Linked DNA regions of Homo sapiens. The protein of the gene in region 2 purifies or fractionates together with the protein of the main gene of each other region. This does not show direct contact. Each region holds a gene or a part of one and is shown on either strand. Other genes may lie near its edges.

Region 1 (3,744 bases), on a different chromosome or scaffold from region 2:
CGCCCCTCCCGGCCGCGCCCCCACCTGCCGATACAACGACTCCTTGCTAGCTAACTCGTTCTCCAGTTTGTCGTTGGCGTCGTGCAGAGACGTGGCCTCCCGCTGGGCGCTCAGGTAGCGCTTCTCCAGTGTTGTAATCCGCTCCTCCATATCTTCCCGCTGCGCCAGCGCCTGCGGAGGTAGCAAAGGGCCCCGTGGACTGCGAGCCCCTGGGGGAGAGGACGGGGAACCCCCTTGTTCCCTGGGAAACAAAGTGCCCTGACATGGGAGTCAGAATGGTGGTGTCACACCCGCTAAGAGCTCCCAGGACTAGCCCATCTTAAGTCCCTGCCACCTACCTGCGAGTTAAAATGGTGATGCTACACCTCCCATGAGCTTCTAGGACACTGCAGGCTCAGATCCTCCAGGTTCAGAGGATCTGAGGCCTGTGGGATGTGAAGTCTCCACTCCAGCCCTCTCCTCAAAACCCAGGCCTTGGATTTCTCACTAATTTCTGGCATAGAGCAGACTTAGAATCAAACAGCAAGTGTCCTGGGGTCTCATGGGAAATAAGGATCCCTTCTACCTAGAAGGCAACACCTCTCAAGAGCTACCAGGGTACCAGAGGCCTAGAACCCCAAAAGAAGTGCTTCAACTTCTTATGGGAGATGGACCCTCATCTGGTAGCCCACGTGGTGGGGCTACATTTCCCAATAGCCCCTGCGGCTATCCAGGCTTAAAATCCCAGATGAAGGTTCTCTCTCTCTCTTTCTTTTTTTTTTTTTTTTTTTTTTTTTTTTTTGAGAGAGAGAGTCTTGCTCCGTCACCCAGGCTAGAGTGCAGTGGTGCGATCTCGGCTCACTGCAACCTCCACCTCCTGGGTTCAAACGATTCTCCTGCCTCAACCTCTCAAGTAGCTGGGATTACAGGCACCCGCTGCCATGCCTGGCTAATTTTTGTATTTTCAGTAGAGACGGGGGTTTCACGATGTTGGCCAGGCTAGTCTTGAACTCCTGACCTCAGGTGATGTGCCTGCCTTGGTCTCCCAAAGTGCTGGGATTACAGGCATGAGCAACCAGCACTCTGGCTGGAGTGCAGTGGTACGGATCTCGGCTTACTGCAACTTCCACCTCCCAAGCTCAAGTGATTCTTATGCCTCAACTTTTTTTTTTTTTTTTTTTTTGAGACGGAGTCTCGCTCTGTTGCCCGGGCTGGAGTGCAGTGGCACTATCTCGGCTCACTGCAAGCTCTGCCTCCCGGGTTCACGCCATTCTCCTGCCTCAGCCTCCCGAGTAGCTGGGACTACGGGCGCCCGACATCACGCCCGGCTAATTTTTTGTATTTTTAGTGGAGACGGGGTTTCACTGAGTTAGCCAGGATGGTCTTGATCTCCTGACCTCGTGATCCGCCCGCCTCGGCCTCCCAAAGTGCTGGGATTACAGGCGTGAACCACCGCACCTGGCATGCCTCAGCCTCTCTAGTGGCTGGGACTAAAGGCACCCACCACCACGCCCGGCTAATTTTTTTTTTAAGTAGTGACGGGGTCTCGCTATGTTGCCCAGGCTAGTCCTAGTGCTCACTCTTCTTTCTCATCCACTGCCTTCAAGAATCCAGGTCCACATTTCCCAGCAGCTCCCTGGGGTCACTGGGATTAGGATAAAGCGGCCTAAGCCAGAAAGGGGTGAAATACCCACAAAACATTCCATTTAGAGGCTGGACGCAGTGGCTCACACCTGTAATCCCAGCACTTTGGGCCGAGGCGAGCTGATCACTTGAGGTCAGGAGTTCGAGACCAGCCTGGCCAATATAGTGAAACCCCATTTCTACTGAAGATACAAAAAAAAAAAAAAAAAAAAATTAGCCAGGTGTGGTGGTGCACACCTGTAGTCCCAGCTACTAGGGAGGCTGAGGCAGGAGAATCGCTTGAACCTGGGAGGCAGAGGTTGCAGTGAGCCAAGATCCCGACACTGCACTCCAGCCTGGGCGACACAGCTAGACTCCATCTCAAAAAAAAAAAAAAAAAAAAAGAGGCTGGGTGCGGTGGCTCACTACTGTAATCCCAACACTTTGGGAGGCCGAGGTGGGCGGATCAAGAGTTCAAGACTAGCCTGGCCAACATAGTGAAACCCCATCTCTACTAAAAATACAAAAAAAAAAAAAAAAATTAGCGGTGCATGGTGGCAGGTGCCTGTAGTTCTAGCTACTTGGGAGGCTGAGGCAGGAGAATCTCTTGAACCCGGGAGGCAGAGGTGGCAGTAAGCCAAGATCACGCCACTGCACTCCAGCCTGGGCGACACAGCCAGACTCTGCCTCACAAAAGAAAAAAAAAATCCATTTAGAGGCACCAGAGAAGAACCCAAAGTTAGGTAACAAAGTAATTACGAGCAGTTATGGAGCGCCTACTCTGCGCCACAGGCTCACCCTCTGATGAGAATCATACATTTCCTTTCACAGGTGGGAAAACTGAATCTCAAAGAGGAGTCACCCAGCCTGTGGACTGAATCGAGGTTCCGCCATTCATGAGCAATGCGCGAGGGAGAGCTCTACGGAAAGGCGAGGGACCCAGGGCAGCCCGCCTCCCTGGGGGCCTCACCTCCTTGAGGTCGCGCTGCAGCTTGGAGTTGGCTTCCTCTGCCTTGCCCAGCTCACGGTGCGCGGTGCCCAACTCCTCCTCCAGCTGGCTCATCTGACGGCACAGCACCGCCAGGCGCTCCCGCAGCTGGCACACCTCGGCGCGCTGCCGCTCCAGGGCCTCCTCCAGCTCTGCTGTGCGCCGGTTGGAATCCCCGCCAGGACCCAGGCCATTGGCAAGAGTCTGGAGTGAGGGAAGGAGGGGACAAGATCCCAGAGTGTCTCCGGAGACACAGAGGAAATCCAAGGAGAAAGTCAATCAGCTGAAAGTAGATCAAAGATCAATAAGGATCATGCTGGTCAGAGTCCACGGGGGTCAGTGAAGGAGGTCACAGAAGTTCGCTAGGTGACCTGAATCAGAGGTCCAAGCTCTGTGACACTCTTACAGGTGCAGCCGTCTTAGGGCCAGTGAGGATGATACCAAACGTTACAAACACTATCACAAAGTCAGGGAGTTGAATGGAGCTCACGGAGAGGGGACTTCCATGTCTCACCTGCCCATCCCCATCCTTGCCCGGCTCTTCCAGCCCTGACCGCCGCCTAGACAGCTGTTCTCGAAGGTTCAGAGTCTGGAAGTGTGAAAGGGGAATCAGAGCACAGGGGCTCCCTGAACCCCCAGCTCTAGTTCTCACTGGCATTGGCCCTCTAAGGGGATAGGCGGCCCCATATGAGATGCCTCCGGTCGTGCTGGGGCCATGCCTACCCCACGGTTTACCCTTAGGCTCCCTCCCTCCTTATATCCCTCCTTAGCTGCCACCACGGAGGGCGTCTACCCTTACTCTTCCCCTTAGCCTCCTGGACAAAGTTTCCGCTTTAGCCCCGCTTTTCCCCATTCAATCACTTCCTCCTTAGTCCCAGCCTGAGCCCCAGCCCCTGGTTCTACCCTTAATCTCACTCTCACTGGGAGATTCTCCCCGTAGCCCTGCGCAATGCGTGCCCACTTAGGAACCCCACTGGTTTCTCTCCATAGTCCAACCCCATAGCTTGTCTGCCCTAGTCCTGCCCCAATAGATTCTCTCTGGAACCCACCCAACCGGCTCCGCCCCGTGGGCAGCCCCTTAGCCCCTCCCCTTGGATTCAAATTCCCTGTCTTGGCCACACCCACACCTCCTGATTGCTCAGTTCCAGCTCCTC
Region 2 (3,744 bases):
ATTCACCCCGGGCAGGACTGCCCTAACCTCTCCAGGTACCACAAACCCACCTCAAGCACTTTCTCCTAAGCCAGCCTCCTTCCTCCAAGCACAATGCCAACAAATACACTAGTGGCCTTCAACTCTCTCCCTTTAAGAGTCTCAAGCCCAGGCCGGGTGCAGTGGCTCACACCTGTAATCCCAGCACTTTGGGAGGCTGAGGCGGGCGGATCACAAGGTCAGGAGATCGAGACCATCCTTGCTAACATGGTGAAACCCTGTCTCTACTAAAAACACAAAAAAATTAGCTGGGCGTGGTGGCGGGCGCCTGTAGTCCCAGCTACTCGGGAAGCTAAGGCAGGAGACTGGTGTGAACCTGGGAGGTGGAGCTTGCACTGAGCCGCGCCACTGCACTCCAGCCTGGGCGACAGAGTGACACTCTGTCTCAAAAAAAAAAAAAAAAGAGTCTCAAGTCTTAGGGCAGGGCGTGGTGGTAAAAGCCTGTAATCCTAGCACTTTGGGAGGCTGAGGCTGGTGGATCACCTGAGGTCAGGAGTTCGAGACCAGCCTGATCAATATTGTGAAACCCCGTCTCTACTAAAAATACAAAAATTAGCCGGGTGTGGTGGTGTGTGCCTGTAGTCGCAGCTACTCAGGAGGCTGAGTCAGGCGAATTGCTTGTACTCAGGCAGCGGAGGTTGCAGTGAGCTGAGATCTCGCCACTGCACTCCAGCCTGGGTGACAGAGCAAGACTCCGTCTCAAAAAAAAAAAAAGTCCCAAGCCTCTCCACACCTCACCCCTAACAGGAGCCCACTCTCTCCACACCCCCTGCTGGGGATGAAAGGCCATCCCTCCCCTAGCATCGCAGCTCAACCTTTGCTAGGTGCCATGGAGTGAAGTGGATCCTGCCTGCCTTTCCGGGGGGCTTCCCTCACTCCCCAGCTGTAGCTGGGCAGTAGCCCTCTCCTGGGACCACTCATCTGGCCCAGGGGGCACAGGAGTACAACCTGTCCCCCATTCTGGCCACATTTCCTCCACGACCTGGTCTTTCCCGGCCACGGGGAAGAGGAAGTGTTTGCCCAACTCCACAAAAACACCACAACCTTTCTGCACATACAGGGCAGGGGTCCCACATCAGATGGGCCAGGAACTGCAACTGCCCCTGAGAACCAGTGGCCTGAACAGACACAGCCACTGGGGCCACTAATCCAGGACCCAGAGTCTCTGCTACCCCACTCCAGGCTGCGGGGCCGGGGCGGGGGGGGTTCCCACTCCACACCTCTGAGAGCCTCCGTACTTCCAGAGCCCCACAAGGAGGTTCTGCCCTCAACTTGGGAGCCACCCTGGCAAAGACCCAGCCCCTCTTTCCCAGCTACACTGCTTTCCAAGAGTTCATCCAGCGAAGGGGTTGAGGGACAGGTTGGGAGGGTGGGCTGGGGGTCCTTCCTCTAGGTGCATGCCCCAGAGTCGTGCACACTCTTCCCCACACCCCAACTCTTCTCACTTGCGCTCCTGATGAGCTAAGAGGAGTTGACGCTGTCACCCCGGGACGGTCGGCTGCCCACCCTTCGCACCCTGCACCCCGAGAGACACCCCCGACCCCTCCCCCGGAGTCTCCTGGCTGCAAGTCGGCTCGCCTGCAGGCAGGGCGGGGGCGCACAGCACCTCCGGGTGGCGGCGCAGACCCGGCGGGGACCCCCGAAATCCTCCCGTCCCGGGAGGCGACCGCGGCCCAGACCCAGCGCGGGACCGCGAGCGCGCGCGGACCTACCCGCTCCACATCCCGGCGCCTCGGGGCGCCCAGGCGTCCGTTCCCAGCGCCGCCGCGTCCTCCCAGCGCCGCGTCCCCGCCCGCCGCCGACTCCGCCAGGGGCCGAGCCGCCCCACCGCCTGTCAGCCCTGCCCGCGGCCGGTCAGTAGGTCTCAGACGCCTGGGCTCGCGGCCCCCAGCCCAGCCCCGACCCTGCCCTGGGCGGGTCACGTGGCGGAGGGGGGAGCGGCCCGAGGACACGTGCCCGGCCCCGCCCCTCCGCCGGCCCGGCGCTGGGATCCGGCGCGCGCTCCCAAGGCCTGGCCCCACCCGGCCCGCCGCGCCGGGACAGGGAGACCACGGCGCTCGGAGGGAACCCGGCCCCCAACATCCCGCGGGCCGCGCCGCGCTCAGACTCCCCAGCTGACTCCTCCTCTCCAGTCGCCCTCCGCACCACCCACTTTGGGCCACCCCTGCTCAAGAACCTACAATGGCTCCCGAGCTCTCAGCTCTTCGATTCTCACACAGATTGTCACTTAAGGCCAGCAGACACCCTCCCCCCTCCTCACCCGGCCCTCCTTCCCTAGGCTGTCTGCTTAGTGCCTGTCCCTGTGCAACATCCTGCCTGCTGGGAAGGGGAGGGGACAAACCCGAAACAAGTTTTCTGAGTCCTACTCTCTGAGTTTTATCCCGAAGGAGTTTCCACTTCTGGTCCAACTCTCCTCACTCAGCCTCCTGCCACTTAACACGCTCTGCCCATCCCTGCCTTTACTCACCATCTGCCCTCTGGATAGTATTCCCCACCCCACCCCCACCGACACACACACATACACACACCTGTCTGGTCCCACATCCTCCGTGAAACCTTCCCTGAATCCCAGACGACTGGTCTACCTGTCCCTCAGTTCCTCTGTCCCACCCATTCTGAGTCCTGATCATTCGTCTCAACTTCAGCCTGGGACTGGACCAGTAAGAGCAGAACCCGTCTTCTCTCCCGCCAGGTACCATGGCTCCCACCTTCCCTGTCTAGGGGAGGACTGGGAGCGTGGTGGGAGGTACTTCCCCTTCTAGGTGCTACCAGAGGTCCCAGTGCTACCCCTCCAGGCCCACTGACTCAGGCCGCAGGCTCAAGTTAGTCAGATCTTCGTTTGAGGATACATTTTATTCATTCATTCTACTCATTCATACATTCAGCCACTCCATCTGAGCATAGACTATGGGGCATGCAAGGGGCTGGGGACCCAGCAGGAAACTGTACAGACATAGGTTCTGCCCTCCTGGGGCTCCACGTTGGTGGAGGATGGAGGATGGGGGACGTATTCTCTAAGACCTCCACGTCCAGGGCACAAATAGACAATGCTCTTTCCCCGCTGGGCACAGCGCACAGCAAGGTATGGAATCTGGAGAGTGGAGGCGAGGCTGGATTCTATGCCTTGCTTGCTCCCTTGGCCAGCACTTTGTGCAGTGAACAACCTAGGCAGTTCTCCATAGCATCCCTTCCAACTTTCTAGAATCATTCAGCCCAGGCGTCCCATAGCCATCACTCAGCAGGGCAGTTGTTTCCATGGCCACGGCTTCCAGAGGGCAGGGATTCTCTCTTTCTTGGAGCTATGTTCCCCTACCCCACCCCCAGCCCAGCTCAGGGTCTGGCCCACCCAAAGCAGATGTCCACATGTGTTTGCTGGCTTGAATCCCTCATCAGTTGGTCTTGAGCAACTGTTGTCTTCCTGGCCCTTATTTTGTTCACTATTTAGAGAAGGAGGAGAAAATGACACAAAAGGAACCCAGCACAGGGCCCTTGCCCTCCAAGTCTTCACAAGCCCCGGCAGGAGATAAGTCATGGCAACCCAGACCAGTGGGAGATAAAGGGTGGAGGAGGCGTCAGCTCAGGGCTATGTCCCTGGAGGAAGAGTCCTCAGCCTGGGAGGTCTGGTGGACCGGGGAGGCCCTTGAGCGAGGTCTTGAAGGACAAGTCTGTGGTCACCACTCTGGAAGCATCCACACTCAATTTCTA
Region 3 (3,744 bases), on a different chromosome or scaffold from region 2:
TCCGCAGGAGGTAGGGCGCCGCCGCCCGGGTCCCGGCCACCAGCGGGCGCAGTAGCGCCTGGGCCGCCGCGTGCGCCTGCAGCAGCGGCGCTGGTATGCGCGCTTTGAGCGCCAGCTCCTGGCGGGCAAAACAGAGCTGCCAGGCGGAGGCGCACGGCCGCTCGGTGCCGCCACCGGGCACCAGGTAGAAGGAAGCCGACTCAGAGGCCAGCGGACCGGCCCACGAGTGGCTCCGAGCCCCCTCGGGCCAGCCCGCCACGGACACCACTGGGATCAGGTCGAAGAGCAGGAGGCGGCGAGGGGGCTCAGGGGTAGCCAGGAGGACGGTGGTGAAACCCGCGTGGCGAGCTGCGTGCACCAGACGCGGAGCACCCGGGACAGGGATCAGAGACTCGGCGACCGCCGCCAGCGTAGCAAAGAACCAGGCAGCCACCTGGGCGGAACATAATGTGGGCCACGCTTCCCGAGCCTCCGACGGCTTTGGGACTGGGCTTTCGACGGCTGCCTTGGTGACGTCACTACTCATTGTTTTCAAAGGTGCGGTAGAGCCAAGGTCGACGACGTCATGCTGAGGCGACTCGGACGCTGAAACGTCACTAGGCGATTTTTCCAAAGACACCGGCGCCTCGTGCTCAGTGACGTAGCTGTGCGGCTGGTCTACAGAGCTTTGCCAGTCCTTGGAACTTTCTTCGCTCTCCGTTCGGTGGATCGAATCACGTGCTCCTGGGACTGGGGGTCCTAAGCAATCCTGCCACATCTCCCGGATGGGGGTTCCGCACACCATCTCTGGGAGGCAGACCTGTGCGTAACAGGATTCCAGGTCCAGTTGCAGTTCAGTGCCGTCCAGTGAAAACATGGGCACTAGGAGTGTGAAGCCGGCATCGTAGTGAGGTCCCCGGGCGTAGGGACCCAGGGGTGCATGCCCCAGATCCAGGGAGCCCTCGCGAATCCCACCACGAAGCAGCAAGAGCTCTGCCTGGGGAGGAAAGCGAGGGTCCCGGCGGTGAACTAGACCTAAAAAAAGGGAACGGATCGTGAGGGCGTCGCCCAAAGCCGGGGCGGGGGCGGGGGCGTGGTGAGGCTGAGAGCTGTGAGTTCCCAAAGGCAAGTAGGGTTACTTACCAAGCAAAGAGAAGACAAAGTCCTTGGCCCGGAGGAGATCGGCTCCCGGCTTGGGCCCGTCACTCCAGCTCTCCTGCACACCCAGCTCCTGGATCAGCTGGGTCAATTCCTGCAGCTGCGCCCCGGAGCAGAAGTCGATGTCCGTGAGCGGCCGAGCTGGGGCCGGGGGCGGCGGGCCCCACCAGGGGGCACTCCCCCAGACTGCGGAAGCCATGCGGTTCTATCGCTTTGGGCTGCGGAAAACACGGAAGGGAGGTGGCTTTGCTGCCACAAAGTCGTCCCCGTTCTTCCCTCTTCCTGAGGCCGAGCGAGTGCCCCAGACACAACCTACAAATGGGTCTGTAGATGATGGGTTCTAAATTTAGTCCTCAAAATGAACAAATAAATACCTCTTCTATCCTGGCCCTTTTCTCATAGGCAGGTCCCCGCCCCCATGAACTGGTTCACCGGACTCAGCAGGTAAAAAGTAACTGTTGGCTCCTCCTACGGAATGCAGTAGCCAGCCTCCGCTGCCGCCCCTTGTCTACCTCCCTTTACCTCTTTTTTGGAAGAGGCTTATTAGTCTGCGGCTTCCCCCTTATGGGAAGCAGTAAGGGTGGGGAGCAGAAATAGATTCAACAGGTTACTTCTTCCTGATGCCCACGTGGCCACGCCCCTACATTTTCAGCCACGCCCCTTTCTGGAGGCTGTCGAGGTGGTTTCCGCCGGGTCGGGTCGCCAGTCAGAGCTCAATCACTCTTTTGGCCCTGCTGAAATCCCGCGTTATCCTGGGAGTTGTAGTTTCCCGCTCTACTAGGGCGTGGTAGCCACGCCCCCACATCCTTTCCTGTTCCGCTGAAGTAGTGCCTGATGGAAGTTGTAGTTCCTCTGGAGACAGATTATTCTGTGTCTTTTCACACCCATATCAACCCCACTCAAACATTCCTTGGGGTTTGAGAGGGGTAATAGGATGGCTCTGAGTCGCAAAAAATAATGAGGGATGGGCCGGGCGCGGTGGCTCCCGCCTGTAACCCCAGCACTTTGGGAGACTGAGGCGGGTGAATCACCTGAGGTCAGGAGTTCAAGGCCAGCCTGGCCAACATTGCGAAACCCTGTCTCTACTAAAAATACAAAAATTAGCCGGGCGTGGTGGCAGACGCCTGTAATCCCAGCTACTTAGGAGGCTGAGGCAGGAGAATCACTTGAACCTAGGAGGGAAAGGGTGCAGTGAGCTGAGATTGTGCCATTGCACTCCAGCCTGGGTGATAAGAGCGAAACTCCACCCTAGGGCCTGGGGAGAGATAGGGACCCCTGCCTGGGTGGGGTGGGGGGGGTGCATCTTGGAATCCCAAAAGTGGTAGTGTTAGGCAGGAGCACACAGATGGTGACCCAGAAATGGACGTTTGACTCATAGGAGAGACATACATGTTAGTGATGCCCACCTCAGCTCACTGCTACCTGAGTCGTGGCAGGGAAAACACTTTGGGATCTCAAATTTTTGTTTTGTTTTGTTTTGTTTTTGAGACTGAGTCTCGCACTGTTGCCCAGACTGGAGTGCTGTGGCGCAATCTCCGCTCACTGCAACCTCCACCTCCCGGGTTCAAGCAGTTCTCCTGCCTCAGCCTCCCGAGAAGCTGGGATTACGGCGCCTGCCACCATACCTGGCTAATTTTTTGTATTTTTAGTAGAGACAGGGTTTCACCATGTTGGCCAGGCTGGTCTTGAACTCCTGACCTCAGGTGATCCTCCCACCTCGGCCTCCCAAAGTGTTGGGATTATAGGCACGCGCCACTGCACCCGGCCTGGGCCACGACTTCTTACATTCCTTCTGCCCTTGGTCTGTCTCCAGGACGGGATAGGCCTAAGTCCATGGATAAGATAATTAAGGAGGACATCTAGGAAAATTAGAGGCCTGTAAAAGAAGAGACTCCCCAACTGTAGAGATCAATTTGGCAAGCCCAGGACTCAGGGGTTCCTCGTCACTGACAGAGAGTTTTCTCCTTCAGCAACCAGAGCTGGGGTCCCTGGGAGAAGCGAGAGCACCAAAGCAGCCCAGAACTGCGCAAGTAGGTTCCCGTACACACACATCTGGCTGTGACCCAAGAGGCCAGATCAGGAGAACTGGAGACTGGGCTGTTTCTCACAGTCTGGAGTAACCAGGCATCAGACATCCCTGCATCTCACCTCCTTCCCAGAGGGTGGCTTCCGAGGCACTCTAAAAAGAACTAAGTTCTCTGGACTCTGTGGAAGCTTTGAAGATGTTAAGAATGGGTGACAAGGAATAGTTCCTCTAAACTCTAAAGCATGGCTCTCCAATATAATTTTCTGTGACGATAGCAATGTCCTGAGTTGGTCCTGTCTGATACAGTAGCCACCAGCAGCCACCTGTGGCTGTTGAGCACTTGAAATGTAGATAATGTGGCCAGGCGCCCTGGCTCACGCCTGTAATCCCAACACTTTGGGAGGCCGAGGCGGGTGGATCACTTGAGGTCAGGAGTTCGAGACTAGCCTGGCCAACATGGTGAAACCCCATCTCTACTAAAAAGACAAAAATTAGCTGGGCGTGGTGGTGCACGCATGTAATCCCAGCTACTCAGGAGGCTGAGGCAGGAGAATCGCTTGCTTGAACCTGGGAGGCAGAGG

The links.
Region 1: the proteins of RAB3IL1 (region 2) and PPFIA3 purify together in Homo sapiens (affinity purification with mass spectrometry; 3 studies listed by BioGRID and IntAct, with this or other methods). This does not show direct contact.
Region 3: the proteins of RAB3IL1 (region 2) and TMEM102 purify together in Homo sapiens (affinity purification with mass spectrometry; 4 studies listed by BioGRID and IntAct, with this or other methods). This does not show direct contact.

What each region holds. Positions count from the first base shown.
Region 1 is NC_000019.10:49,129,428-49,133,171, reverse strand, and holds part of PPFIA3 (liprin-alpha-3), read right to left. Parts: coding exon 3,718-3,744; intron 3,180-3,717; coding exon 3,105-3,179; intron 2,795-3,104; coding exon 2,573-2,794; intron 172-2,572; coding exon 25-171; intron 1-24. UniProt on the Homo sapiens protein: May regulate the disassembly of focal adhesions. May localize receptor-like tyrosine phosphatases type 2A at specific sites on the plasma membrane, possibly regulating their interaction with the extracellular environment and their association with substrates.
Region 2 is NC_000011.10:61,915,606-61,919,349, forward strand, and holds the start of RAB3IL1 (guanine nucleotide exchange factor for Rab-3A), read right to left. Parts: upstream 1,962-3,744; 5' UTR 1,763-1,961; coding exon 1,752-1,762; intron 1-1,751. UniProt on the Homo sapiens protein: Guanine nucleotide exchange factor (GEF) which may activate RAB3A, a GTPase that regulates synaptic vesicle exocytosis. Promotes the exchange of GDP to GTP, converting inactive GDP-bound Rab proteins into their active GTP-bound form.
Region 3 is NC_000017.11:7,433,464-7,437,207, reverse strand, and holds the start of TMEM102 (transmembrane protein 102), read right to left. Parts: upstream 1,774-3,744; 5' UTR 1,512-1,773; exon of another isoform or gene 1,356-1,511; 5' UTR 1,337-1,355; coding exon 1,123-1,336; intron 1,015-1,122; coding exon 1-1,014.